2 separate regions of the Homo sapiens genome follow, and region 2 is linked to region 1. The links come from fine-mapping of genetic effects on gene expression. A gene starts in region 1. The other region holds a variant in brackets. All regions are shown on one strand. Distances are from middle to middle.

Region 1 (2,766 bases):
ACCTGGGTAGCTTTGTAAAAACCCCAATGCCCAGTTGGTTTGCACCCCCTGAGATTCTGATTAAACTGTTCTGGAGTCCATCTCTCTCTTTTTATTATCTATCTATTTATTTATTTTTTAATTTGGCGGCTCCTCTGGGACTTCTCATATGCAGTAGGGGTTGAGAATTGCTGGTTTCTTTGGCCAGATGGGAACATGCAGGCCAATAGTTACGCACAAACAGAGCAGCAGAGCAGGACGGTGCTAAGGTTGGAAAGGGTGAGTCATGAAAGTTCAGGAAATCAGAATAGGAAGGGGTGAGAATCCTCTCATCTGGGCTTGTGGGGCAGGAGAGAAGAGCCCAGTGGGCAAGGTCCAGTGAGTGTGCTTAGAACTGGGAAGATGAGGGGAAGGGTAAGCGCTGGGCGGCGGTGGGCAAGATGGACGAGATTAAACGGGAGCGAGGATTTCAGCGAGAGCTTTGGCGACACGGAAGGCTGAGAATCGGAGGGAGCCTGTCGGGCGAAAGCGAAGGCGGCTGCTGGGCAGGCAGCCGAATCCGGCTGGAGAGCCGAGCTGGTGAGACCTACAGGAAGTGAAGGGAGTCGCTCAGGGCGTGGCGCAACGAGACTCTTAGAAGAAACTCTGAGGCAGAGATGGGGGGCCTCCGCCCATACGGAGACACAAGGAAGTCCACATGCACACGCACGAGCGCGCACATGAACACGCACAAGCACACAAACGCCTCCTCCGGGCAGGGCACACGCGCCCGCTGCACAGGCCGAGGCCCTGGACTCGGAGGGGACTGCAGAGCCGACCCACAACCCGGGCCCCGATGCCCCTCCCGGCCGCGCCCCTACGACTGCTTGCGCAACAGGCGGCGGCTCCAGTGGGCGCCCGCCGCGCGCTGCCGGAGCCCAGCCCAGCCCGGCGCGCCCGGGAGGAGGGAGCAGGGAGCGGGGAAGGGGTGTGTCCCGGCTGCGTGCTGGGACTGCGAGGGTCTGGGAGGGGCGAGGCGCGGGGGCGGGGCCGCGGCGCCTATAAAGTCGCCCTCCGCCCGGACGTAAACAAACCTCGCCTGGCTCCCAGCTGGTGCTGAAGCTCGTCAGTTCACCATCCGCCCTCGGCTTCCGCGGGGCGCTGGGCCGCCAGCCTCGGCACCGTCCTTTCCTTTCTCCCTCGCGTTAGGTAAGCCCGCGCCCTCTTCTCCCAGGCGCGACGCGGAGCAGAAAGGGGCCGCCCGTGCGGTGCCGCTGGAGCGCCAGGACCGCCCTTTGTAGCCCCGCGTACTCCAGGAGTAAGCGCCCCGGAGCTGCAAGTGCGCGGTCACCCCGGGGCGCGGGCGCGAGGGGGCTTTGGGTGCAGACACCGCTGAAGTGGGGGGTTCAATTACGGAAAGGGAGGAAAAAAAGACAGGGTCCCATTCATCTCCCCCCTAGCTGGGGATTGGGGTTCTGGAGGTCGGGAAGGGGGCGATGAGACGGTCCGAAAAAATACCAGGATAGCGTTTCCTGGCGTCGTCTCCGAATCCCAGCTGGCGCCGCTGGCAGGGGTGCGCGCTGGACGTGGGTGCAGAAGGGACTAGGTGAGTGTGTGTGTGTGTGTGTGTGTGTGTGTGTGTGTGTGTCTGTGTCTGGGAACGGAGAGATTGCGCGCGAGTGTGTAGATGAGGGGTTGGTAGAGGTGAGTGGCGCTGGCAAGGAGGCTGGAGAGGGGGGCGTGGGTGTGTCTGGCTTGCAGACTGGGTCGGGAACGGGTGTGGATCCGAGAGGCTGGTGGCGCTTCAGTCCCGTAGCACACACAGGGCGGTGTGCATGTGTGAGTGTAAGCGTGTGTGTGGGGGGAGGGTCCAGGGTGTGTCACAGTGCAACACGCGAGCCGGAGCAAGTGTCTGCGAGCGCCACTGGGCAGGGTGCGCCCCCGGAGGAACCCGGGATTGGCGCATCGGCGGCGTGGGAGAAGTGACCTGGGCGAGAGGGGTCTCGCGGACATTTGGCGGCCCCTTGAGCTGGCTGGAGCTAGGAGTGGCGTCATTTTCGCCTCCGCCCACCCTCCCCCGCTTTCCTCCCCTCCCCTGCCTCTGGTGCTGGCCGCTCCTGCCCTCCACGGGGGAAAACAGCTGGAATTACTTCGACGTTCCTGGGGGATCCGCCGCGGTCTCTGATTCAGCCTCGGGAGGAGATTTCGGGCTGGGCTTGGGGAATGCGGCTGGTTCTGGGGGAAACACGCTGTCACGCCTCTGTCAAATTAGTAGCTGGAGCTGGGATTTAGTGGGTCGGTTCCTTACCCACCCCTCCCCCATATCCCCCGCCTGTTGTCCCTGCTGTCCCTGGGGGTCCTGAACAGCACGCCTCTGTGGCTTGGAAGTGGGAGATGCCTGGCAGTGGGTGGGGGAGGCAGGGCCCTTGGTTATCTTATGCCCATCCAAGAACACCCCTTCCTCACGGACGCTGGGGGCACTTCAGTTTGTTTGGTTTCTTTAAGCTACTGGGAAATATCTAATATTCAGAAGTCAGCCAGTGGCCAGGCAGGAGGGCGGTAGACATCCTTATAATACCCATCAGCTGCACGGGACCTTCTCCTAAGCTGCCTCAAAAGAACATATCTAAATACAAACCCCCTGTTCTTGCTGCAGAAATGTAGTTTCAAGGCGAATTTTTCAGTCTAGACTCTTCCTGTTGAGAAATTCTGGCGTTCTTATTGAGTTTCACAAATGTGATTGAAATAAGCAAGGTACAGAGGGGGCAAACCCCAGCGCCTTTCTTGGAAGGGCTGCCTTCTGGTGGG
Region 2 (2,766 bases), 32 kb after region 1:
GGGGTAAGAAGTAGCAGAGGTGGAATCCGATCACCAGCGGGTGTGGATGGCGTGGGGGTGGCTGCCTCGTACCACTTCACGGGGGGTCACTCACAGATGGAGCAGCCTACATTCTCTGGGCCTTCAGCACCTCTAGGAGGTAGGAAGGGCCAGGCTGTTCCTGTTTTAAAGATTCAAGCTGGGGAGGAGGTGACTTGCCCCCACAGGGTGCCTAAGTGGTGATCTGTCCCATCCCTTCTTCTCAAGCGTGAGTTTGTGAACGCTGACCTTCCTCTCTGCTGCCACACGGCAGTGATCTGTATGGGTCGCATTTCTGCCAGCTTCTAGAAGCAGGTTCAACAGCATTTAGAGTGTTCTGTGTTCCACTTCACTGCCTCATTTAATCTTTGGAAAATCAATGCAGCGTGCTGAGCTGAGGTGGCCTCGTGAGGCCTGAGTGTGCGCCGCTTGCGGGCGGGTCAAGTGCTGAGAAGCCTGGGGCCCCGCGGAGGCTGATTGTCTGGGGGACCTGCCTCTGTGCTGCCTGCCCGTGTGACTCTGGGATACTGACTTCACTTCCTCAGCCAGCTGGGTCACATGGCTCTGGCAGGGCTCCTGTGAGGGTGAGGACATGGAGGGACATGGTTCAGCACTGCCTTGACACCTGGCAGGTCTCAGCAGCCTGATGGCCTTGCCTCCTGCTCCCCAACTGCCCTGTGGGAGCAGAGCCCAGAGTGGGGCACTTCAAAGGGGAGGTCACTGCTCTCAGATGTGGAAATTGCTCAAGGGAGATGAGTGACTGGGGTCCTCGGGAACTTCTGGTTGACCTTGAGGAGGGCGGAAGCCCAGGGTAGGCATGGGGTGAAGGGTGAGTGGAAGTGACAATTGAGAAAGAGTCACGACCACCCTCTGCAGGAGTTTAGATGAACATGGCAGGTGACAGATTGGTCCATGAGTGAGCTGGGGTGCTTGGAACCAAGGCAGGGTGCCTTTTTTTTTTGTTTTCCAGAGGAAGAAAGGTGAGCAGGTCTTCAGCTGTTAGGAAGGTTTGGTGCGGAGAGGTGCAGGGATGACTGGGAGTAAGCTGGCTGGGGGTCACTGGCCGAGCTGGAGAGTTGGCCTTGACCCA[G/A]AGAACCATCTGGCTCAACAAGAAGGAAGGGCAGGAGGGAGGATGGGCATGGTATCATTCAGAATCTTTTGGTCAACTCAACATGGCTTACATGGGATTGGAAGTTGGTGGGCCGTGTAACTGAAAATCCCAGGTGGTGGATGCCATCCCCAAACCGTCTTTCACTCTTTTCCATCCCTGGGCTGGCCATACTTTCAGGCAGGCCCTTGCCTCACGGTGACAATGTGGCTGCTACAGATCCAGCCCTCCCAACCTTGCTCCATCAAGTCCGATCCAGTTCCCCAATTACTAGAAATAAGTGCAGCTGGCTTTAGTTGGCCTGAGCCAACCCATGTGTTCTTTCCTGATCCAGTCCTTGCAACTGGGAGGTGGAGTGCATGAATTGGCCTTGACTTGTGAAACGTGGGGAGGGGGGTCACTGTCAACAGAACACTTAGGACTGAGGGTGAGGGTTGGGTGGGTTCCTGAAGGAAACTGAGGGCTGTTCTTGGAAGTGGGGAGTGAATTCTGTGTAGCCCCAAGCCAGCAGATGTTAGTCACAGGTACAGTAACCTGTGGGGCCAGTGGGGCCTGAGGGCAAGGAAGCAAGGAAGCGCAGGCTTGATGGCCTGTTTTCCAGATGGAGCAAACAGTCCGGGGCAGAGATGGTGGCGGGCAAGCCCTTTCCCCAGCATTTGGTGCATTTAACAGCGCAGTCTGAGCCAGGCCTCTGTCCCCTGCCTCCTGGGAGTCCCCTCCTAGCCCTGGTCCTTGGAGTGGCTTCTGGCCAGAGAGAGCTGCTGCCCGAAGCCGGGGCTCTTATGGCCAGATGAGAAGAGAGCTTCCTCAAAACACAGTTGGAAACAGGCTGGCTGTCTTCAGCCACGCGGATGCCATGAACCCCACATGACCAGCCCACTGTCTGCTGTGTCTCCTCAGGAGCAGGACATCGAGACTTTACATGGCTCTGTTCACGTCACGCTGTGTGGGACTCCCAAGGGAAACCGGCCTGTCATCCTCACCTACCATGACATCGGCATGAACCGTAAGTTCTGAGGAGCTCTGATTCCCTGTCAGCCGGTTCCCAAGAGAGTGGCGGAAAAAGGCAGCCGAGAAGGGCTGATGGCCGGGAGCTGGTGGTTTCTTTTTGCCTGGGACTTCCTGGGGCTGTTCTGGGAAGAACTCTTGCCACAGCCTGGAAAAGCCAGAAATGCGCTGCATGTGGGCACGGAGTTGTCTGTGTGCCCGGAGGCGCTGGGAACACAGGAAGCTGTTTGCTATCTGTGGCAGTGACTTCTATATTAATGCACGCATATGGTTTTCAGTCTTTTCACAGAATTGTGCAACGATCAGCACAATTTTGGAACATTTTCATCCTTCCAAAAAATCCTGTACCTTTTATCTGTCACCCCACCCTCAGATGACTGACCCTTCATTGACTTTCCTTTTCTGTGAATTTGCCTGTTCTGGAATTTTGTATACATTGAATCAAATAATATGTGATTTTTTTTTGGTAACTGGCTTCTTTCTTAGTGCTTTCAAGGTTTATCCAGGCCATGCATTAATATTTGTATTTCCTTTATTCCTTTATTGAATAATAATATTCCATTGTATGGATTTACCACACTTTATTCGTTCTTTTTTCTTTTTCTTTCTTTCTTTTTTTTTTTTTTTCTGAG

What was found. PIP is the estimated chance that this variant, and not a neighbour inherited with it, causes the effect.
Region 2: its variant is the best candidate, but not a certain one, in a credible set for the expression of NDRG1 in blood mononuclear cells (TOPMed, PIP 0.70).

Annotation. Positions count from the first base shown.
Region 1 is chr8:133,295,535-133,298,300 of GRCh38, reverse strand. It overlaps NDRG1 (N-myc downstream regulated 1), which reads left to right and starts at 1,049. Exons shown (of 16, transcript NM_006096.4): 1 at 1,049-1,167. RefSeq lists a silencer at 719-1,168.
Region 2 is chr8:133,263,913-133,266,678 of GRCh38, reverse strand. NDRG1 (N-myc downstream regulated 1) reads left to right here. Exons shown (of 16, transcript NM_006096.4): 4 at 2,027-2,132. Among named protein-coding and RNA genes, the nearest start is that of NDRG1, 32 kb to the left of the region's middle. RefSeq lists a silencer at 619-913 and an enhancer at 516-1,016. The variant G/A (reference allele first, on the strand shown) is at 1,109.